3 separate regions of the Homo sapiens genome follow, and all the other regions are linked to region 2. The links come from fine-mapping of genetic effects on gene expression. A gene starts in region 2. Each other region holds a variant in brackets. All regions are shown on one strand. Distances are from middle to middle. Region 1 has its middle 30 kb from the start of CLIC4. Region 2 holds the start of CLIC4 (chloride intracellular channel 4). Region 3 overlaps CLIC4 (chloride intracellular channel 4).

Region 1 (8,179 bases), 30 kb after region 2:
CTATCTCTACCAAGAAAAATTAAAATCAGCTGGGTGTGGTGGTACATGCCTGTAGTCCTAGCCACTCAGGAGATTGAGGCGGAAAGATTCCTTGAGCCCAGGAGCTATGATTGCACCACTGCATTCCATCCTGGTGACAGAGCCCAACCCTGTCTCTATTTTAAAAAAAGTTCCGGCCAGGCACGGTGGCTCACGCCTGTAATCCCAGCACTTTAGGAAGTCGAGGTAGGCAGATCACTTGAGGTGAGGAGTTCAAGACCAGCCTGGCCAACATGCTGAAACCCCATCTCTGCTAAAAATACAAAAAGTAGCCAGGTGTGGTGGCGCACACCTGTAATCTCAGCTACTTGGGAGGCTGAGGCATGAGAATCGCTTGAACCTGGGAAGCGGAGGTTACAGTGAGCTGAGATCATGCCACTGCACTCCAGCCTGGGCAACAGAGTGAAACTCCGTCTCAAGAAGAAAAAAAAAAATTCCCTGAACAAATAGGGAAACTGACGCCTTGGGGAGGGGCAGGGAGCTGCTTGGGATCACTAAAAATTGGGGATCGCTTTTTTGTGAGGGGCACATAGCTGCTATTGTATTATTGTTTTTTGATTGTTCCCAATTTACCAGGGAGGAACTGAGCCAAGAAGTTAAGTAACTTAGTTGAGATCACATGACTAGGAAATGGTAGAGCCAAGATTGAACCCCAGCCAGCCTGGCTAACCAAACAGTAGCATGAGGCTGATCATTAACTGTCTTTTACTGAATATCCACAACATACTTGCAAAATACATCTTCTTCCTCACACCACCCGATGAAGGAGGTACCATTAAGGTCCGCATTTCACAGATGAAGGAACTGAGCCCCAGGGAGGTTGTGTGATTTACCCAGGGTCTCACTTCTAGGCAGTGGCAGAGTTGAGGTTTCTCGACACAGGGTTGTCCTGCTGCCCAAGACCTCTTAATTCCCAGCTGGCTTTCCCTGGCCAGGCTAGAGCCAGTGCCATCCCCCATCCATCCCATCCCTTCTAGGGTGTACGTGCAGAGAATGCAGAAGTCATTGAACTACGGTCTGGACAAATGGGCATTATGAGCAGGGTCCTTCTGCCAAGCAGCCACAGCCAAGTGGATGCTGTGCTAGACTAGCCACCTCCCCCCTCCCTCCAGCTTGACCCTAAAGTCCAGGATTCTTTGGAAAGATTAGACTCCACTAGGCTGAGAACACCGCGGTGCCAACAGCAAGGGCTTCAGCTCTACTGTACCCTCCACACACATTATGTGAAGGTGAAATTTCACAAGTACCCCAAGAAGAAGGTTCTAGTACTATCCTCATTTTTCAAGAGGCAGGACAGTAGAGGGGTAAGAGCATTGACTTGGAGCAGAGGCTGCCTGGGTTCCATCCCCTACCCGGCCACTAGGTCTGTCCAAGGCTCTGTCCTAGTCATGGCCTTGCTTACTTAACCTCTCTGGACCTCAGTCTCTTTATCACTGGGAAGAGGACGAGACTGGTACCTACACCTCATAGGGAGGATAAAAGAACTAGAAGTATTAGGATATGGGCACAGCACATAATGAGCACCATGTGTTTGCCATTTTATGGAAACTGAAGCTCAAGAAAGTTATATGACTTGGCCTACGTCACATGAGTACCACATGGAAGAGCCAGGACTTGAACTCAAGTCTGTCCAACTCCAAAGCAGCCCTCTCCTCACATACTCAGGGCATTGAGCTCCTTGATGGATGAGTAGAATTTTTAGATTGAAGGAAGGTGGACAATTCAGGTTGTTCACAGAGATGGGAATGGGCTGCATAGCAACTAGTAGTAGTTCCAGGGTGAGTGCCACATCCCCACAGCTCTAACATCCAGTCTGATGGATATTCAAGTCACTGGACACAGGATTCCGAGCGCCTACTCTGTGCCAGGTCAGGTACTAGGTATTGAGAAAGGAGAAAGAAAGCACACACAGTTCATGAAGCTCAACAATCCAGTGGGGGAGATGGATGGGCAAGTGAATCACTATGATACAGTGAAATAATGGCTCTATAGTGCTGAAGACAGGTGCAAATAGTAAATTCTCCCTGGGAAGCAGTTGAGGAAGGCTCCATGGAGGAACTGGCATTTGAACTGGACCTTTAAGAACTGAGCAAGGCCTGGCACGGTGGCTCACGCCTGTAATCCTAGCGCTTTGGGAGGCCGAGGCGAGTGGATCACCTGAGTGATTCAAGTTTGAGACCACCCTCACCAGCATGGTGAAACCCCATCTCTACCAAAAATACAAAAATTAGCCGGGCATGGTGGTGCATGCCTGTAGTCCCAGCTACTTGGGAGGCTGAGGCAGGAAAATCACTTGAACCCGGGAAGCGGAGGTTGTAGTGAGCTGAGATTGCGCCACTGCACTCCAACCTGGGCGACAGAGCAAGACTCTGTCTCAAAAAAAAAAAAGCTGAGCAAGTTCAAAACAGGAAAAGTGAATCCACCCCAGACAGAGGGCCTAGCAGGAGCAAGTGCAGAGAATCACAAGGCACATGGGGCATTCAGGGGAGTGGAGAGTTCCATATGCCCCAGGCAGGGCCGATGAGACTGCAGAAGTGGTTCAAGGTCAGAGTAGGAGGGCCTTTCTGTTGGTCAGAACTCCTGGGTTGCGAGAGACAGAAAACGCAATTCCAAGAAGCTTAGGAAAAAAGAAAATCCGTTGACTCAAAAAACTGAACATTCACCTCCTTTGAGAATGAAAGTTAAAAAGAAAAAACAATAGAGTATATTAGTGTATTTGCTTCAGGTATAGCTCAAATAAATGCTTTCAAGACTTGGCCTCTCTCTCTTCTTCTCTGCTCCTCTCTGCTTCTCCTTGCATTGGCTTCACTCTGAAGCAGGCCCTTTCCAAATGGAGGCTCCAAGCCCAGGGCAAAGAAAGATTCATTTCTCCAGATATTTATTTATTTATTTATTTTGAAATGAAGTCTTGCTCTTGTCCCTCAGTCTGGAGTGCAATGGCGTGATCTCGGTTCACTGCAACCTCTGCCTCCCGGGTTCAAGCAATTCTCCTGCCTCAGCCTCCGGAGTATCTGGGATTACAGGTGCGTACCACCACGCCCAGGTAATTTTTTGTATTTTAAGTAGAGACAAGGTTTCACCATGTTGGCCAGGCTGGTCTCAAAGTCCTGACCTCAGGTGATCCATCCGCCTTGGCCTTCCAAAGTGCTGGGATTATATGCGTGAGCCACAGCGCCCGGCCCATTTCTCCAAACATTTATACACAGGTTCTGAACTTGAATTTCATTGGACTGGTTTAGGTCACGTGACTATGTCTAAACCAATTGCTGTATAGAGGTGGTGGGAGTGGAGGTGGAACAATCGGATTGATCAAGTTGGGGTCACATGTCTAATTCTAGGCCTGAGCTCCACTCGAAACATATGGACTGAGAGTGGGGGCCCAGGTGCTTCCCCAGAAATAGAGAGACTTGGAGCTCATATGGAAAAGGAATGGATGCTGAGTGGGCAAGATGACAGCCTGAACACTGAGGTCATGGTCTTTTAGGTAGTGAGGAGTCAGTGAGGGCTTTAATTTGAGGACAGAGCAGTTTGGACTCAACTTGGGCTTTGTGAGTGAAGAAGGGAGAGATGATGGAGACAGAGATGTTTGTAGATGAAAATCTCTTTGAGAGATCCTGGAGACCTGGGGTAGCAGGCATGGAGAGGAGGGGGAGAGGCAAAGGCTGCCTGGCTGGGATGCCCCAGTTGTTACTGGAAGGGCTGCTTCAAGGACCAAGACCACGTCACCCCCTGGCTACGGGCCTTCAGATGCCAGCAAGAGCGTGGGCTAAGGGCCCAGCCTCCCTGCCCCGCAATGCCCATGACTAACTCTTTCCCTCCATCTGCCCCCGCACTTACTCACCCCCACTGGGCCCCAGAGAATCTGATCTCTCATGGTCCCAGTTGTGAGGTGGTCACCTTGTCATAAGGTGCTGGTAGTGGTGGAGGCTGGGCACCTTCACCCCTCCCAGCCTTAACAACCGCTTTCTTAGTTTCTAACCTCCCACCCCATCCCCCTGGGGCCTGGAACATCACCCCGTGGGCTCCAGGCAGGCCAGCTCCTCTCCCTGGTGAATGGAGCCATTGTAAGATCAGCCTAAGAGCTGGCAGGCACTAGCCTGGCACACGTGGCTCTCCCAGAGTCCCTAAGTCCAGCCATTCTTGGTGCTGGGTGCTTGGGCCTGCTCAGAAATGAAAGAGGAGGACTGAGGGGGCTTGGACTGCTGTAGCAGGTTTCAGGACCTGCTGCAGCTAGGCCCCTGAATATACTATGCTCGGCCTCAGGTCTGAGGGAGGAGGCTGGGGGCCAAGGCTTGACCCTGGAACCTTCAAAACTTTGGAGCAGGAGGGACTTGCCAGTTGGGCCCTGATATATCGGGGGCTTTTACCAAACTGAAAGCTGTGATGTGATAGAAAATGCCAGAACTCTGTTCCTGGTGGTCCAGCCAACCCCACAGAACTCTGGAGGGAGAGGCAGGACACTGAGGCCATCCAGGAAAATTATGAGGTTTGGGAGTTGGTGGTAAGAAAGTGGGGAGTTTGGGACTTGCCATTTCACCACAGACTGCCTTCCAGAGCCTTCCAGACGGAGCCTGGGGTGATGGTGTCAAAATACTTAGCTACTGTTTATTGAAGACTTATTAAGTGGTTAAGCACTGTGCCCAGAACTTCACATACCTTATCTCATTTAGTTTTTATAACATCCATGTAAGGCAGGTATTATCATTATTCTCAGGGCTGTCATGTACTGTTGCCCAGATTGTTCACTGCACAAAGGTACCCAGCCATAGATGAGTATGTGAAGGCTAAAATCCACCCAGTGCTCTACTCACCCACTCTGCTCCTGTTGGGTCTGTGTCTACTATAAGAAGGTCCTCTTTTTCTTATGTTATAGCTGGGAAGTTAGGCTCTGAGAAGATGAAATTACTTGTCAAAATCTTCATAACAGGTAAGTGTAAGATCAGATCTGCTGACTCCAAAATCTCTCAATGAACCACTGTACCCTCTATCTTCAGGCTTATGCAC[T/C]CACACTCCTCTCTGCTCTTCTCTTTCCTCGGGACCCAACTGCTCACAGTAGGCAACGTGGCAGGAGGCAAAAGCCTGGGCCAGGAGATAGGAGACCTGGGTTGCAGGCCTGGCTCCACCTTAGCATTCACCTTTCCTCTTCACATCTTGGTCTCCTTATCTGTAAAGTGGGAATTTCAATTAGAGTTCTTTAGAAGCAAGAGAAACCAACTTGAGCTTACTGAAAAAAAAAAAAAAGGAAGGCAGTGGAAGAATCTGGGGCTGCCGGTAGAACGGAAGGAGGAGCTAAACTAGGCCTTGGATAGACCAGAAACCTCACTCCAGGGATCCAGCAATGGACGTTTGGGCTAGGTCCCTGTGGCATCCCCATGTCTATGTGAGCCACTGTGCCTGGGAGAGGGACTCATGCCCAGCTCATAGGGATTGCCTGAATCAAGTGGGCTCTGGGTGGGGAGGCTCTCTGCAGGCTGCAAAGTAGATGTGATTCAAGGGAACATCGTATATGGCTCTGTTCCTCCTGTCCCAGGAAAATGTGTGAGCAAGGCCAGCCTCTGGCCCTGGCTTGCCACTGACTGACTGCCCAAGGTTACGTGTCCTTGGGCAAGTCACTTCTTCTTCTGGTCCAGAGTTGTCTACAGAAGGTAGATGATTATCTGTAAGGCCAGTTTTTAGCTCACTAAGGTGTTAGCAACTGATTCCAGGGAATTTCAGACATTCCTGGGAGCAGTTGTTCAACCTAAAAGAATGAATCATGGATGGTGGAATTTTAGGCATCCATGAAGATGATGTTGGGTGGAGTTTTTGTGTGGTCACACCAAGTGGAAAAATGTCCACTGCACGTAGGAGACCAAGTGGGGAGAGGGGCAGCCTGGGCACGGTACCCCTACTTCGCACCTCCAGGACCTCTGCCATGAGAGGGCTACAGAGATCCCGCTCAGGGGCAAGAGGTTGGCCACATTTGAGAGCTGGGTCACTGGAAGGGCTCCAGGCAGAGGAAGAACAGCTGGCTGATGGGAGACATGGAGCCTCCTGACCACTCCTATCCCCATGCCTTTGTCAAACGGACACACATATTCATGGCAGCCGGCTGAGGCACTGTGCAAAAAGGACATCGGTTCTCCTGTCTGGGCCTCAGTTTCCACCTCTGTCAAATGGGGTAAGGTTGCTCTAACCTCATGGGGTCTTTCTAAAAATCAAATGGGACAAGACATCCGAAAGAAAACCAAGGAAACTTAGGATCTTGGTGCTGAATAAGGACTAGAATGTCAGTGTCATGGAGCAGGTCTTCTCTCTGTCTTCTGCACTACTGTATCCTCAGTGCAGCATGGAGCCAGCTGCATAGTAGGTGCTCAAAACATTATTTATTGAGGCCAGGCACAGTGGCTCACACCTGTATTCCCAGCACTTTGGGAGGCTGAGGCAGGCAGATCACTTGAGGTCAGGAGTTCGAGACCAGCCTGGCCAACATGGTGAAACCTGTCTCTACTAAAAAAAAATTACAAAAATTAGCCAGGTGCGGTGGCTCACGCCTGTAATCCCAGCACTTCGGGAGGCCTAGGTGGGTGGATCATGAGATCAGAAGTTCGAGAGCAGCCGGACCAACATGGTGAAACCCCATCTCTAATAAAAATACAAAAATTAGCTGGGCATGGTGGTGGGCGCCTGTAGTCCCAGCTACTCGGGAGGCTGAGGAAGAGAATTGCTTGAACCCAGGAGGTGGAGGTTGCAGTGAGCCAAGATCACGCCACTGCACTCCAGCCTGGGCGACAGAGCGAGACTCCGTCTCAAAAAAAAAAAAATTACAAAAATTAGCCGGGTGTGGTGGCGCTTGCCTGTAGTCCCAGCTACTTGGGAGGCTGAGGCAGGAGAATTGCTTGAACCTGGGAGGCGGAGGGGAGGTTGCAGTGAGCCAAAATCGTGCCACTGCAACTCCAGCCGGGATGACAGAGCAACAAGACTCCATCTCAAAAAAAAAAAAAAAAAGTATTGAGTATTAATAAGTAATATCTATAGGTTTTTATGTTCCAAGCATTGATCTGAATTTTTGTTTTGTTTTGTTTTGCTTTTTGAGATGGAGTCTCGCTCTGTCTCCCAGGCTGGAGTGCAGTGGCATGATCTTGGCTCATGGAACCTCTGCCTCCTGGGTTCAAGCGATTCTCCTGCCTCAACCTCCGGAGTAGCTGGAATTACAGGCATGTGCCACCATACCCGGCTACTTTTTGTATTTTTAGTAGAAAGGAGATTTCATCATGTTGGCCAGGCTGCTCTTGAACAGGTGATCTGCCTGCCTTGGCCTCCCAAAGTGCTGGGATTACAGGTGTGAGCCACTATGCCCGGCCTGATTTTGTTTTATAGAGACAGGGTCTCTCTCTGTCACCCAGGCCAGAGTGCCGTGACACAATCATAGCTCACTGCAGCCTTGAACTCCTGGGCTTAAGCGATTTTCCTGCTTCAGCCTCCCAAGTAGCTGGGACTATAGGTATGAGCCACCACAGCCAGTGGTCTGAATTTTCCAGGTATTCATTCTTTTAATCTTTACAATAATATTGGTACTGTTATTATCATCCCCGCTTTGGAGATAAAGAAAAAGAGATGACGTCACTTGCCCAAGGCCATGCACCTAGTAAGAGATAGAGCTGGATTTTGAACCTAGGTAGTCTGGTTCTAGGGTCCTCTCTTAAGCATAACTCTACCTGCTGAATGGCTGGCTAAGTGAGCAAATTGAATGAATACATGAATGCATGAACAAGGATATGAATACATGGAATTTGGGTTTCAGACTCCTCAAAGCTTTTACTGTAAGAACATGGGCCGAGGCCGGGCGCAGAGGCTCACGCCTGTAATCCCAACACTTTGGGAGGCAGAGGTGGGTGGATCACGAGGTCAGGAGTTTGAGACCAGCCTGGCCAATATAGTGAAACCCCATCTCTACTAAAAACACAAAAATTAGCCAGGTGTGGTGGCACATGCCTGTAGTCCCAGCTACTCAGGAGGCTGAGGCAGAAGAATCGCTTGAACCCGTGAGGTGGAGGTTGCAGTGAGCCAAGATCATGCCACTGCACTCCAGCCTAGGTGACAGAGTGAGAGTCTGTCTCAAAAAAAAAAAAAAAAAAAGATGGGGGGACTGGGCGTGGTG
Region 2 (8,179 bases):
TCTTTTACAAACTCAGATACCTCTTGGCAGGTTAACACTGTTCAACATACCACTCTGGACAACCACAGCCTCTGCACCCTCTCTACTTTCTTTTTTTTTTTTTTAATTTTTATTTTTTGAGATGGAGTCTTGCTCTGTCACCCAGGCTGGGGTGCAGTGGCACTATCTCGGCTCACTGCAACCACCGCCTCCCAGGTTCAAGCAATTCTCCTGCCTCAGTCTCCCGAGTAGCTGGGATTACAGCCATGCACCACTATGCGTGGCTAATTTTTGTATTTTTAGTAGAAATGCGGTTTCGCCATGTTGCCCAGGCTGGTCTCAACATCAAGTGATCCACCCCCCTCCGCCTCCCAAAAGGCTGGGATTACAGGAGTGTGCCACCACACCTGGTCCACTGCTTTCAAAATAACTATATTTACAAGGGTATTTCCCCCATTTGCATTTCCCACACGTAGGTTTTGAGAAGAGATCAAGAATGCCCTTTACCACATTTTACCTGTCCTTTTTTCCCCTTTCAAACAAACTGGTCTAGGGGCCAAGCACAGAGGCTCAAGCCTGTAATCCCAGCACTTTGGGAGGCCAAGGCAGGCAGATCACTTAAGGTCAGGAGTTTGAGACCAGCCTGGCCAACATGGTAAAACCCAGTCTCTTCTAAAATACAAAAATCAGCCAGGCGTAGTGGTGCATGCGCTCCTCGGAAGGCAAAGGCAGAAGAATCACTTCAACCTGGGAGGCAGAGGGTGCAGTGAGCCGAGATCGCGCCACTGCACTCCAGCAGCCAGGGTGACAGAGCGAGACACCATCTCATTAAAAAAAAAAAAAAAAAAAAAAACAAAAAACCTGATCTGTATCAGTGCAAAGTTTGCCTATGTTGAATCACTGGGTAGCAGAAAACATTTCTTATTTCACAAATGAGACAAACAAGGCTTAAAGAGTGAAAACAAACTGCCTAGGGTCACCCAACCAAGGAGTAAAGAACTGTGACTTGAACCCTGATTCTCTGCCACCAAGCCCAATGAGAAAGGCTTACAACTAGTGGTAGGAAGGATGATTTTCAGTGGTTCTCAACACAAATATGAAAAACAGAAAGGGGATGCAAGTGACTCAAGTTTGGAAAACTGCACACGCCCCTCTGCTATTCTAACTGAAAGATGAAATTAATAGTAAGCAGGGCATTAATCACTGATCTCTTCCTAATTCAGATACTTAATTTTTCTTGTCTTCTTTGATTAGCTCCTCCAATAGAATAATAGAATACTGAATAGAGCCATAACTGATAATAGCTTTATCTTTTTTTTTTTTTTTTTGAGACGAAGTCTCACTCTGTCGCCCAGGCTGGAGTGCAGTGACTTGATCTTGGCTCACTCCAACCTTTGCCTCCCCGGTTCAAGCGATTCTCATGCCTCAGCCTCCCGAATAGCTGGGCCCACCACCATGCCTGGCTAATTTTTCTATTTTTAGTAGAGACAGGGTTTCACCATGTTGGCCAGGCTGGTCTCGAACTCCTGGCCTCAAGTGATCTCCCCATCTCGGCATCCCAAAATGCTACAGGTGTGAGTCACCTCACCCGGCCCGATAGTAGCTTATTCTAAGTTTAATACTGTTCTAAAGTTTCACCGTTAAGTATCATGTTTTACAGATTATTCATGGATGCACTTTTTTTGAGTTTATGGAAATTCCTTCCTATTCCTCACTCAGTAAAAATTTTTTTTAACTCATCTCTGGCCCACTTGTTTCCCTTCTCCATGCTGTTTTCCACCCACCACCCTTCCTTTCTTTCTTTTTTTTTTTTTTTTTTGAGATGGAGTCTTACTCTGTTGCCCAGGCTGGAGTACAGTGGCGCAATCTCCGCACACCACAACCTCTGCCTCCCGGGTTCAAGCAATTCTCCTGCCTCAGCCTCCCGAGTAGCTGGGACTACAGGCACGCGCCACCACGCCCAGCTAATTTTTGTATTTTTAGTAGAGATGGGGTTTCACCATGTTGGCCAGGATGGTCTCGATCTCCTGACCTCGTGATCTGCCCACCTCAGCCTCCCAAAGTGCTGGGATTACAGGCGTGAGCCACCGCGCCCGGCCTCCTTCCTTTCTTGTATTTCAGGTTCCTTCCTACATTCTACGCATCTCAAAGTACTATATCTGCCACTCAAAGTAACCGAAACGCTTTGATATTTTGGGGGTTCTATACCTGTCTGCTGTTTCAGTTCCCTGGACCAAAAAAAAAAAAAAAAAAAAAATCGAAAATTGACAATTGAAAGAAAATCCTAAGGCAAACACTGTTCCAGTCATTACTGAAGACTGCAGAGGTAAATGCAGATTATTTCTTCTCTCCATCTCTTTTGTTTGAGACAGGGTCTTGCTCTGTCGCCCAGGCTGGAATGCAGTGGTGCGACGTGGCTCACTGCAGCCTCGACCTCCCGGGCTCAAGCAGTTCTCCCACCGCAGCCTCCAGAGTAGTACAGGCGCGTAACATCGCTCCCAGCTAATTTTTGAATTTTTTTGTAGAGACAGGGTTTCGCCATCTTGTTCAGGCTGGACTCAAGTAATCCTCCCACCTCGGCCTCCGAAAGTGCTGCGATTACAGGCATGAGCCACCGCGCCCAGCCCTTCTCTATCTCTTAAACACATCCTGAAATGTCCTTTCTTTAAAGTAAAAACTCGGGGAAAAAAAAGAACCCAATAGTTCTAGATGACCATTTACTTTCCGGTATGTTGCCTAGCTCTGAATGAGCCTGGCTTTTTAAGTGGCTGGAAGAAGCTCAAAGTGTTTTTTTTAAGTTTTGAGGGAAGGAGCTGGATCCAGATGTTTATAACTTCGACTCTCTCCTTTGCTAAAATAAAAAGTATTAAAGAGAAAAGCAAAGGAAGAGGGGTAGTATGTGTAAGCAAATAAATTCCACACATGAAAGCTGAAGACACAAGGGAAAACCAACCCTTTAAAGCCCAAGCAAGTTAAGAATTCTCTCCCTCAATTTCTTTCAAAACAAAAGGGCACACACAATCCTTCCCGAAGCAGCAACGCCGGGGGGAGAAGCCAAAATGTTGCATCATACAGAACACTCCGCGCTTGAGAAACGAGAAAGCCAGTAAATGCCCAAGACAGAAAAACACAAGTTGGGAATCTCGGTCTTTTCCGAAGGTCCAAGAGCACCTGCTCTTTGGTAAATTTGTTTAAGATTGCATCGAAAATTAAAGTTTCCGTTTCAGACCAGTGGGGAGCAAATGCTTTTTCAAAAACGCGTTCAAAGAAGTTCGTTTGAAAGCTCATCGGGCGGCGGGCCGCAGTTCGGGCTCCGGGCGGCGGACCGGAGCGCTGGGGAGCGGGTGGGGCCGGGCCCCGGCGCCCGGGCGGGGGGTGGTGACAGGACCCGCGCGCGCCCGGCGCTGGGGCCCCGGGGCAGGCAAGTCCCGCCCGTGGGCTCTTCCCGACCCACCCGGGCGCGGGACGCTGGTCTGGCGTCCGCCGATGCCTACGCGCTGGAGACGGTGGCCGCCGCCCGGGTCCCCAACCCGGACCCCTCGACGGGCCCTCGGAGGCGGGAAGGCGCGGGCGGCCCCCAGACAATGGGCCGGGGGCGCGGGTGCCCGCAGCGGGACGGGTGCTGGCGCCGAGCGGGGGCGCCTCAGGAGAGCCCCGGGACGCCGCTCCCCGCAGCCGGGAGGGAGCCGGGGGATCTGCCGGGCGGGACCGCGAGGCGAGCGCTCACCTTGACGAAGAGCTCGATGAGGGGCTCTTTGTCCTCCTCCTTCAGCCCATTCAGCGGCATCGACAACGCCATGGCCGGCTCGGCTGCGCTCCGCGAACGGCGAGGGCTGCTGCTGCTGCTGCTGCTTCTGCTCCGGGACTGCTCCGGCTGCCGGTTCCCGCCGTGCTGCTCGCTGGACTGTCCGGCGTCGAGCTGGCCACGGCTTCAGCTCCTCAGCACCGCCCCACGCCCCCCGCGCCACTCTGAGCCAGCCGCAGCCCGAGCCGCTTCAAACGGCTGGGAGGGGCGCCGGGGGCGGGGCCTCGGGCTGTAGGCAGGGCCAAGGCGCGGCGCCTCGGGACTCTCCGGGGAAAATAAGGCGGCAGGAGCACGGGGGCGTGGCCTCGAGCGGGGAAGGCGGAGGGACCGCTCCGGAGCCGAAGAAAGGACCTCTGCGGCGCCCCACAGCTGGTAGGGGGCGTGGCCTTGGTGGGCGGTACAAAGCTCAGGCTCTGGCGGGCGGGACCCGGGTACGCCTCTCTAGGGGACTGGTGCGGGGGGGAAAGGAGGGGAGGAATTCCCCAGGGGCCCGAGCCTGACACTGCCTCCCGCCGCAGCGCCTGCGCGTCCTCCGCAGCTGCTGCTGTTGCTGTGCCAGGTGACCTCATGCCTCGGCCGCCCTGGGGAAGCTAGGAGGCGCCTCCTACCCACTCCCCCGCTGCAGCACCCCAGGACTCATCGCCCTTTCCCGCAGCGGCTACCTCCCCAAGTCCCTCTATTACGCGGAGTTGCCTTTTCCAAGACAACTTACTGGAAAGTTTTCATCGCCTGGGGAACACCTTTTTCTTCTGCCTCTGACTTCGTTTTTCCCTTTGACGCTCCTGATCGTTTCGATCTTGGCAGCCAGCATATTCACAAATATATATATATATATATATATTTTTTTTTTTTTTTTTTTTGAGACGGAGTCTGGCTCTATCGCCTAGGCTGGAGTGCAGTGGCGCGATCTCGGCTCACTGCAAACTCTGCCCCGGGTTCACGCCATTCTCCTGCCTCAGCCTCCCAAGTAGCTGGGACTACAGGCACCCGCCACCGCGCCCGGCTAATTTTTGTATTTTTAGTAGAGACGGGGTTTCACCGTGTTAGTCAGGATGGTCTCGATCTCCTGACCTCGTGATCCGCCCGCCTCGGCCTCCCAAAGTGCTGGGATTACAGGCGTGAGCCACCGCGCCGGGCGCATATTCACAAATATTTATGAAACCTTACTGTGTTTCAGGCTCTGAGCTAGCCCTTGGAGAGTAACAACTCCCAAAGCTCAAGATCTTGAACTGCAATCTCAGTGCCTGCAGGCCACTAAGGACTTCCAAGTCGTTGTCCATCTTGTTCCCCACTGCCCACACCCATTTCTTCCCCCCGGCTCACCTGTCAAATTTGAGTGTGCATCAGAATCACCTAGGTGCTACACGCAGCCCCGCTTTTTGTGTTTCCCAGATCCTCTGGGAAAAAGAGAAATCCACATCTTAGCAAGCACCAGGACAATTCTGAAGTAGGTGGTCCGCAAACCAGTTAAACTGCCCTGGGATTTAAGCCCCCGAGGGCAAGAGCTGTGCTTGCCTTGAGATTGTAGGCACCTGGTCCTAGTTTGCTGCTGTTGAGTGCCTGGGGCAAGTTTCACCTCCTCTGGAAACAATTACTTGTGCCCTTTTCTGACTTTCCATAATACTTGACTCACAGCTACTCCTCCCAACTTCCCAGGTTGGGATAAATAGTGAGTTCCAGGAGGCCCAGACATGGGAGGTTTGTCTCCATATCCTCGGTGCCTAGCACATACCAGAATGTTTGAACAAATTGTACGTAGGCATGAAAATACAGTGAAACTTGCAATTTCTTCCTCTGCCAGCCCAAAGTAAGTTGCTCAAATTTTCTCACAGAGGCTCTGTGAAAGAGCCAGTGTATCCCAGTGGTCAGGAACACGTGCTCTGTAGTCTGACTGTTTAAGTTCAAATCTGACAAGGCAGTGTCCTTAAAACCCCTAAGCCTCAGTTTCATTATCTAGAAGTGGGTGGGGCTAATTACTGATTCTTGCCTTACCATATGTGCTGCTCCGTCAGTATGGCTGTTAACTGCATTGAGACTTATTCTGTCCCTACCACCCCTGCAGGCTAGAATGTGGCATCATATTCTACTCTCTCTATGCCCGGCTAGTTCGTTGAAAATAAATAAATAAATTCCAGGAGGCTCCCCTTAGATGGGGGCTTGAACCATGAAAATCCTGAAGTGACTGACTAGACTCTGGACTGAACCGTGTTAATTTTTCATAGAATCATGAACTGAAGCAAAGTTTCCTTCCAGAATCCACCCTCTCTGCCCTACCAAAAAGGAACCAAATGGTGAATCAGTTCAAAGCAGATCTAAGCCAAAAAACAATTCAGCAGAAACTCAATGTACCTGAGAATTGATCAAATTGAGGCCGGGCACAGTGGCTCATGCCTGTAATCCCAACACGTTGGGAGACCGAGGCGAGTGGATCACCTGAGGTCAGGAGTTCGAGACCAGCCTGGCCAGCATGGCGAAACCCCATCTTTACTAAAAATACAAAAATTAGCCGGGTGTGGTGGCACATGCCTGTAATCCTAGCTACTCGGGAGGCTGAGGCAGGAGAATCGCTTGAACCGGGGAGGCAAAGGTGGCTGTGAGCCGAGATCACGCCACTGTACTCCAGCCTGGGCGACAGAGCGAAATCCATCTCAAAAAAAAAGAATTTGAGTTAGAGGCAGCAAATATTCCCGGTGGTGACTTGCCCTTCACAGGCTCCAACTGGCCTCACAGCACCAGGGTATGGAAGGAGGAACAGACCAGGGCCCTTTAGGCTTCATTGACTAAACAGAGATCTTAGCTAGGAGGAAGCCAGGGGCATTCTCCACAGAGCCCTGAGGTGGTGATGATCTCCTGGGCTCCTCCTACCCAACAGGAAGCCCCCCAGGAAGAGGCTCAGACCCAGAGCCTGTGCTTAGACGTAGTCTCAGTCACACCTACAGTTTCCCAAGTTCCGCCCTCATATGGCTCCCATGGATGGGCAGTCAGTCCTGGGAGTGGGTGAAAGGGAAAGAGGATGTTTATGCAGGGGAGGCCCCCTAACCACATAGCAGTCAAGTCTCCTCTTCGAATTTTGAATTGCATGCCTGCTTTACATTCTTTACTCAGGCTTGTTTTTATAGCACACAGAAATCTTTAAGATGGGTGGAGACATGTTGTCTCCTCCCACACACACCCCTCTGACCTCATCTCCTACCATTCTCCCCTGTGCTCTCCACCCCAGCTTCACTGGCCTCCTTTCTAGTCCTTGGATATGCGAAGCACACTGTGGCCTCAGGGCCTTTGCATTTGCTCTTCCCCCTCTCTGGAACATTCTTCCCCCAGAATTTCTGCAACTCCCACTCCCTTACTTCCTTTGGCTCTTTGCTCAAATGTCATCTTCTCAGAGCGCTCTCCCCAAATACCACCCTATGCAACGTTGCAAGTTGCTATCTTTCACTCCACCCTCCACTTTATCTCTCTTCATAACACTTACAACCCTCTGATACATATCTACCTATTTATCTGCTTATTGTCTGTCTTCTCCCACTAGAACATAAATGCCATAAGGGCAGGGATTTTTTGTTTGGTTTTGTTTATGGCTATATTCCTGGCTCAGAGGACAGCTCATGGTACACAATAAAAATTTATGGAGTGGGCCGGGCGCAGTGGCTCACGCCTATAATCCCAGGATTTTGGGAGGCCAAGGCGGATGGATCACCTGAGGTCGGGAGTTCGAGACCAGCCTGACCAACATGGAGAAACCCCGTCTCCACTAAAAATACAAAAAATTAGCCAGGCATGGTGGTGCATGCCTGCAATCCCAGCTACTTGGGAGGCTGAGGCAGGAGAATCGCTTGAACCTGGGAGGCAGAGGTTGCAGTAAGCCGAGATTGCGCCATTGCACTCCAGCCTGGACAACAAGAGCGAAACTCTGTCTCAAAAAAAAAAAAAAATAGCTTATGGAGTGAGTGACTGTACCATGTTTATCCTATGGTTTCATGTACCCCTGACATGACATTTGGATTGTCACGCTCTTCCAGTCTGGGAAGCCAGGTGGTTTGTGTTTATGACTGCCCCTACACAGGGGGTCAGGTTTTCCTCCAGTAAGCCTCCCTTGATGACACTTTCCTCCTCCCACTTCTAACTCTGTGGTGCTGCTCGCTGACTGTCTCAGCCCAAAGTTCTGCAATTTCAGCAGCAGAATGAGCTGCTATGCACATGGACTCTGGGGCCAGACTGCCTGGGTTCCAATCCTGCTTCTGTTATTTACTAACTCAGGATACTTACTTAACCTCTCTGTGCTTCATTTTCTCATCAGTAAAAATGGATCTAAATTAGTACCATTTTCTCGTCTGTAAACATGGATCTAAAATTAGTACCTATTAATATTTAATAGGATCATTGATAAATTAGTCT
Region 3 (8,179 bases), 24 kb before region 2:
AATCCAATTTTCCCTTTGTAAAAAACCTAAATTCTGCAGAAAGTTTTTTCTTTTTAAGAGATTACATTCCAGGTGAAGTGTGAAAAAAGAGAGATTACAGTTTAAGTAAACAAAAGGAAAATAAAGAATTCAGAGGGTAAATGAGATATGTGGGGGACTTTTAAAACACAATTGCTTGACATGCACAGAAAATTGGCTGTAAGGATATATATCACAATATTGCTTAAAGCCAAATTTCAGACCTCTAAATGACTAAGAACAATGGATTAATGAAGATGACCATAAACAATGAAAAACTGCAATCATGAAAATGCTATACAATATTTTATTAATAGTATAAAATATTAGCTCTCAACAAACATGAATAAATTAATGAATCTTCCTCATTTGTTTTAATTTTGGATTATGTATTTTTAAATGTTCATTAAAATATATTACAAAATCAGCCGGGCGCTGTGGCTCACACCTGTAATCCCAGCACTTTGGGAGGCCAAGGTGGGTGGATCATGAGGTCAGGGGTTCAAGACCAGCCTGGCCAAGATGGTGAAACCCCGTCTCTACTAATAATACAAAAATTAGCTGGACACGGTGGCGGGCACCTGTAATTCCAGCTACTCAGGAGGCTGAGGCAGGAGAATCGCTTGAATCTGGGAGGCGGAGACTGCAGTGAGCTGAGATCGTGCCACTGCACTCTAGCCTGGGCGAGAGAGCAAGACTCCGTCTCTCTCTATATATATACATTACAAAATTAGTTTCCGCAAAAATTATATATTCAACACTGTATTTCAGCTGTGAAAGTTAATATTCAGAATTCTTGTCTATCTTCTTTGCTGGCCTAAAACTTCAAATATCTGAAGAGTATAACATAGCAGGATGTTTCTTACTGAAATATTTTACTTCGGATTTCAATGCACAGGTTACTCAAATATGATGAAGGAAAATTCTATAAATTTGACTGGCTTTAAAAAAAAAAGAAGAAGAAGAATGGTTCTGTGTCTGCTTTATTTTAGATACAACAAACAAAATCTTTCCTTAAACTTTCTTTCAGGAGCTCACCTGGGAAATAAAATATATTCTTTCGGGTCAAAGAATTCACTCCTGAAATATTTTTTCTTTCTTTGGCAAACTGCCTCCATTATCATGAAGAATTTGTATTGGCTCTATTTTTGTTATCTAATAGATTGCTTCTAATTATGAGAATTTAATTCTCTGGATCTGACGTTGGAATCTCAGGGCTCAACTTTCTGCCTAAGCCTAAGCTTAAGCCAAGCCTAAGGCTACCTTGGCATATAAAATAATACAAACTGGACTGAACATCACCTCCAAGAAATACACCCACTTGACAGATGAGGTAGCAGATCAATTAGGATACACATAGGACTTGAACCTGGCCTTCCAGTTACATAATATTCTAGTTCTCTAAACCAATCTGTTAGGTTTAGACCAATAGCTATATAGTGAGTAGCTAGTTACAAAACCCCAATTACATGTCTCAAGTTCAATAACTGAATACTACTTTTAACTCTGGTATTTTACTATGAGGTAATATAGAACACAATAACAGAAAATATTTAATATATTCTCTCTTACATGCTTATATTCCTATACTATGCACACCAATTTGCCAAAAAACACTAATAAATGCTTACTGAATTAATGAATTATCTCCTATATATAAAGGTTTGTGGTAGGGGGTAGATATAAAAGATGAAGAAAATAGTCCCTTAGTCTTTAGAAGAACATAATAATTTTTTAAATTTAAAATATAAAAAGAAGAAAAAAGAAAATAATCCCTTATCCTTGATCTCCTGGAATTTACATTCTAGCCTGGAACAAAAATGTAATTAAAGGTGATTCAGATGAGTGGCAGAATATAAAAATGCACAAACTGCCCCAAACAGTAGGAAAGAGTAGTTCTGCTAAGGGAACAACATGGTCAGAGAAGGATTCAGAACAGATTCCAACTTAGGCTTGGAGAACATTTAGTTTCATGAACTGATCCCTAAAACCCCGAAATATGTTAAGCTAAACTTTTTACACAATTAGTTGTATTCCAAAGTATTTATAGTAAGATGCGCCACAGATGTGTGTATATAGTTCTTCTCTTCAGAAGCATAGCACGTTCGTAAGGGCTTGAGTGTTTAGGAATGCTTGCAAAGGGCTCTAAGAAGGAACACAAGAGTTGGAAATAATTATTGTAAGAATGCTTTGGGGGACTTTTCAAAGTCCTTATTTGAGAAGGACATGTGCTGTGACCAGAAGCAGATTTATTCCATCATTCCGTTCTATTACAATCTCTCTAACCAGCCAATCAGAAGAAATCCTATTACCATTTAGCCATACTGAGATCTGCTTTAATGGTTAAAAATGGAATAAACCAAGAAAATACTAAGTAAAACACGTTTCTTACAACTTACAAAGATGAGTCCAGCCTCACAGTAAAAATATGTGACAAAGACTCAAGGATAAAACCAACTCAAAAAACAAAAAAAAAAGAAGAAGAATTGGTGTGAGGAAAATGACAAGGTCAAGAAATTAAAGAAGCTAATTTATTTATAACCTCCCCTCAAAGGGAGGCATAAGTGACTATGCTTCATATACAAAGCAACTTTTTAAAAATTTGTGTGCTTGTTTTACAGAAAGATTCCTTATAATTTTTTTATTCTTTTTTTAAAGAAGCAAAGGCAGGCAGACTATAAGACTAATCAGTTTGGTAAGTGAGCCAAAAGCAAGGGGGGAAAAAACAGATCCAAAAGCACTGGCTGATCTCATTAGCTTTGCTTAAGAAACTTTATAGATGTGACTTCACTCCTGGATTACACGTCTATATTTAGTTTATACCTAATATGGATAAAGTCTTGAACCAACAGTCATTTCCTCTCTCCACAAAAAGAAACTTCCTTGCCTTTTTTTTTTTTTTCTACCAACCTCTGAAGGGGGAGGAAGGGAGAAAGGGAGAGGGCAGAAAGAAAAGAACTCACAGAAAAATAATTAACAAATTAGTATATGATTTTTGTTAAACTTGAACCATTTAGACATTTCTCAATTGGAAAACAATCCTAAAATCAAAATATGTGAGGCCAAGCACAATGGCTCATGCCTGTAATGGGAGGCCAAAGTGGGAGGATAACTTGAGTCCAGGAGTTCAAGACCATCTTAGGCAACACAGTGAGACCTCATCTCCACAAAAAAATTAATTTAAAAAAAATTAGCTGGGCATGGTGGCACTGCAAGTCCCAGCTACTCAGGGAGCTAAAGGAGGAGGATCACTTGAGCCCAGGAGGTCAAGGTGGCAGTGACCTGTGATGACACCACTGCACTCCATCCTGGGCAACAGTGAAACTCTGCCTTAAAAAAAAAAAAGACATTCAAGTCAGGTTCCTTAACAAGTTTATAAATAAACCCTCTAAAGTGCTTTATAAAATACTAATTAACCAGGCCCCCAAAATGCAACGAGGTGAGGTAATGGAAATTTTAGTTGCCTTTCAAATTTTACCAAGAGAACTGAAAGCAACCAAAGTCATCTAATGAACCATCTAGGCTCACTAGTTGTTAGTATGTTTTAGAAATATCCTTAAATATTCTCAGAATTTTTTTTTCAGGGTGACTGAAAACAGAACATAAGAAATTCTGTTAGGAAAGCATTCAAGTTTCAAATAAATAGAGAAAAATAACATAAACAAAGTTATTGATTCAGGTTCTGAAATCCCAAAGACGTTAGTACAAATCACAGTACTGCTACTTACTGGCCCTGCAACCATACCCAAACAATGATCTCTCTAATTCTCATGTGTTAAACAGTATTGATAGCACCTATTTCAAAGTTTATATGAGGATTAAATTAGCTAACACATGCAAACGGCTGGCACACTGTGCCTGGCCCATAGTAAGCACCCAATGCTATCTATTACCTCATGACCATTATTCTGGCTTTAGTAGGGAAACAAAAACTTACTGATCATTTTTTATATATCTGTTTATTCTGTATAGTGATAAATTAAGTAGCTTCAGAAAACTTATAACATTATTATAAAATAAAGATTTTAAAGTCACTTCATGATTCTTACAT[TATG/G]TTTTTTTGTTTGTTTTCTTTTGTTTTGAGACAGAGTCTCACTCTGCCACCCAGGCTGGAGTGGAGTGGTGCAATCAGAGTGGCTCACTACAGCCTCAATCTCCTGCTTCAGCCCCACTAGTAGCTGAGACCACAGGCATGTGCCACCATGCCCCGCTATTTTTAATTATCATTAAATAAATGATAGAGATTATATCTACCAATTACAGACATGCTAAAGTTTTCTTTCTTTTTCTTTTTTTTTTTTTTTTTGGTGAGGCAGAGTCTCACTCTGTCGCCCAGGCTGGAGTGCAGTGGCACAATCTCGGCTCACTGCAACCTCCACCTCCTGGGTTCAAGTGATTCTTCTGCCTTAGCCTCCCGAGTAGCTGGGACTACAGGCACATGCCACCATGCCTCCTAATTTTTGTATTATGAGTAGAGATGGGGTTTCACCATCTTGGCCAGGCTGGTCTCGAACTCCTGACTGACCGCCTCAGCCTCCCAAAGTACAGGGATTACAGGCGTGAGCCACCGCACCCGGCCGACATGTTAATGTTTTAAGCTTTATCATCTCATTGTGGTATAAGATGAAAAAGTCTAAAAACAATAATCTTAGATAGAGTCTAGAAAAATTAGAAGACTTCATTTTTACTCCTTAAAAATTACTAAATATAAAACCTGTAGATCTACACTATCTCAACTTCTTCCAGACAAATTAAATAAAAAGAGCTTAATCTCTTCTCTTTAAGAGAAATGTAGATGTGTTAAAAATATAAGCACGTCTACATTTCCTTTAAAGAAAGCATTAGATAAAGGCTAGTTAATATATGACCTGTTCAGTTGTAAAGGTGAATACCACAAAAATCAAGAAATAGTGAAATTTGGTAGCACAGGAAGCCAAAATCCATAATTCAAAAGTACTTTTACCCAGCACTTTGGGACGCCACCACAAGGGGATTACTTGAGTTCAGGAATTTGGGACCAGCCTGGGCAACATGGCAAGATCCCCATATCTTAAAAAAATGAAAATTTTGGCTGGGCGTGGTGGCTCATACCTGTAATCCCAACACTTTGGGAGGCCAAGGAGGGCGGATCACCTCATGTCAGGAGTCCGAGATCAGCCTGACCAACATGGAGAAATCCCGTCTCTACTAAAAATACAAAAATTAGCCAAGCGTGGTGGCAAGCGCCTGTAATCCCAGCTACCCGGGAGGCTGAGGCAGAACTGCTTGAACCTGGGAGGCAGAGGTTGTAGTTAGCCGAGATCATGCCACTGCACTCCAGCCTGGGCGACAGAGCGGAACTCCATGCCAAAAAAAATATATATATATATAATTTTAATTAAAAATTTTTAATTAAGAGTATTTGTACAGAACCAATAAGATCCTATGTCATAGATTATTCCTCTTTACTTTTGCACTTTCACATTAACAAAAAAGAGAGAGAGGAAAAAAAGAAAAACATTCTCACTACTAATGGACTCTCAAGCTTTAGCTACAAGTCCAGCAAGAGCTGCTGAGGCCGATGGACTAAGATGGCAGAGTCCAATCTGACTGTCCTTTAGTTACCTAGTAAGTGTCAACAGGATCAGGGTTCACTGAAGTTAATTCAAGAGCAAACTCAAGCTTAACCTTGAACTTTTTTTGTACTAACCCTGCTCTTTTGATAAAGAATGAAAAGTTCCCACCTGGTGGTAGTGGCAGTCTGGCAGATGCTTCTAATCCTGAAGGTTGAAACCACATATGGTATATTGAATATAATAAACTAACCATAGGCCAAGCCAACATGGTCTTAATTCTGCATTCCTAAAGGCAAAATAGTAAGCAAACAAGGCTTACTATGAGTTAGACTCTAAGGGCTTTTCTTATATTAACTCTTATAATCTTTACAAAAGCCCAAGATTACCCCAGTGGGGACACCAAGGCAACTAGTGAAGGGTAGAACTAGGATTCAAACACAGGCCACATGGCTCGGGAGTCCACACTCTTAGCCACTACATCAAGCTTGTCCAACCTGAGGTCCGTGGGCCACATGTGGCCCAGGACCACTTTGAATGAAGCCCAACACAAATCCATAAACTTTCTTAAAACATTATAAGGTTTTTTTGGTTTTTCTTTTCTTTTTCTTTTTTTTTTTTTTTTTTTTTTTTAGCTCATCAGCTATTGTTAGTGTATTTTTTGTGTGGCCCAAGGTAATTCTTCTTCCAGTGTGGCCCAGGGAAGCCAAAAGACTGGACACTGCATACTCTAACAGCATAATACTAAAGATCCAGTCTTCCATTATGATGACTCAATTGCCTACTTGAAATATTAATTCAAATGGTCTTCAATTCCAAAAGAAACTATTTCAGCACCTAGACAGAAATACTGGCTAGGCGTGGTGGCTCACACCTATAATCCCAGCACTTCAGGAGGGCAAGGTGGGCGGATCACTTCACGCCAGGAGTTCAAGACTAGCCTGGCCAACATAGCGAAACTATGTCTCTACTAAAAATACAAAAAAATTAGCCAGTTGCAGTGGCACATGTCTGTAGTCCCAGCTACTAGGGAAGCTGAGGCACAAGAATCACTTGAGCCCAGGAGACGGAGGTTGCAGTGAGCTGAGATTGTGCCACTGCACTCCAGCCTGGGTGACAGAGTGAGACCCCGTCTCAAAAAAAAAAAAAAAAAAAAAAAAAAAAAAAAAAAAAAAAAAAAAAAACCGTCTGGGCAACATAGCAAGACCTGATATCTAAAAAAAAGAAAAAAGGTGCAGTGGCTCATGCCTATATTCCTAGCACTTTGGGAGGCCAAGATAGGTGGATCATTTGAGGTCAGGATTTCAAAATCAGCCTCGCCAACATGGTGAAACCCTGTCTCTATTAAAAATATAGGCCGGGCGTGGTGCCTCACACCTGTAATCCCAGCACTTTGGGAGGCCAAGGTGGGTGGAACAGGAGGTCAAGAGATTGAGACCATCCTGGCCAACATGGTGTAACCCTGTCTCCACTAAAAATACAAAAATTAGCTGGGCGTGGTGGCACGTCTATAGTCCCAACTACTCAGGAAGCTGAGTCAGGAGAATAGCTGGAACTCGGGAGGTGGAGGCTGCTGCAGTGAGCTGAGATCGCGCCACTGCACTCCATCCTGGCAACAGAGCGAGACTCCATCTCAAAAGAAAAAAAACTAAAATTAAAATTTAAACAAATTTTAAAAATTAGCCGGGCATGATGGTGGGCGCCTGTAATCCCAGCTAGTTGGGAGGCTGAGGCAGGAGAATTGCTTGAACCCACAAGGTGGAGGTTGCAGTAAGCCAAGATGGCGTCACTGCTCTCCAGCCTAGGTCACAGAGCGAGACTCTGTCTCAAAAAAAAAAAAAAGAAAGAAAGAAAGAAGAAAAAGAAGGAAAGAAAAATACAAATGATACTTCAAGTAAACAATCATCCCTGGCTCTGATTTTGGGATCTATGATCTCAAATATTTCAAAAGATATAAAGAACTTTTTACATGCAATACGGAGGCAACGGTATAATCTAACACAGGGGTTCCTGCTGAGTCATCAGGACAATAGCTGCTCTCAACACTCCTAATCTTAATGGCTATCAAGCCACATGCTCAGGGTCAAAACACAGTTGCAGACTCTCCCTTAAAACTTTTTTACTTTGCAAGGAAAAACAAGTAAATCTGTTTATTTCAATCTAAAATATGAACTGAGCCCAGTCATTTGCATCACCCTCTCGACCTATTTCTCTGGCTTCTTGTTAGGCATTTGCTTTTTCCCAATCATGTGATCTTTTAGTTCTTCTTTTCCTCCCAACCTCCTCTGAAATTAAGCCTGTGCACGGAAAAAAATAAAAGCTTCTATATATTCCTTCAGCAAACATTTTATTGAGTAACAATCAAATGAGTTAATATTTCATAGATGTAGTCAACACAGTGCCTGGCACATAGAAAGCACTCCATAAATGTATATATTATTTCAATTAAATATGAAATGCTTTTCCATATATACTTCTTCTATCTCATGCATTTAAGAAATCCAACAGAAAACAGTCAATGGGAACAGTATCTATTCTAAATATAGGAAAACCAGATCTTCCTAGAAGTGAAAAGGCCTCCCAGGCAGTGAGTTACAATAACTCTAGTG

Evidence for each region.
Region 1: its variant is fine-mapped to the expression of CLIC4 in blood mononuclear cells (TOPMed, PIP above 0.99).
Region 3: its variant is fine-mapped to the expression of CLIC4 in whole blood (INTERVAL, PIP 0.96).

What each region holds. Positions count from the first base shown.
Region 1 is chr1:24,710,971-24,719,149 of GRCh38, reverse strand. No RefSeq gene overlaps it. Among named protein-coding and RNA genes, the nearest start is that of CLIC4, 30 kb to the left of the region's middle. RefSeq lists an enhancer at 3,252-4,451. The variant T/C (reference allele first, on the strand shown) is at 5,044.
Region 2 is chr1:24,741,153-24,749,331 of GRCh38, reverse strand. It overlaps CLIC4 (chloride intracellular channel 4), which reads right to left and starts at 3,885. Exons shown (of 6, transcript NM_013943.3): 1 at 3,707-3,885. The coding sequence starts at 3,778. RefSeq lists silencers at 3,314-3,473, 3,574-4,283 and enhancers at 3,365-3,970, 3,971-4,576, 5,789-6,394.
Region 3 is chr1:24,765,049-24,773,227 of GRCh38, reverse strand. The region is part of intron 1 of CLIC4 (chloride intracellular channel 4); the gene reads right to left. Among named protein-coding and RNA genes, the nearest start is that of CLIC4, 24 kb to the right of the region's middle. The variant TATG/G (reference allele first, on the strand shown) is at 4,070.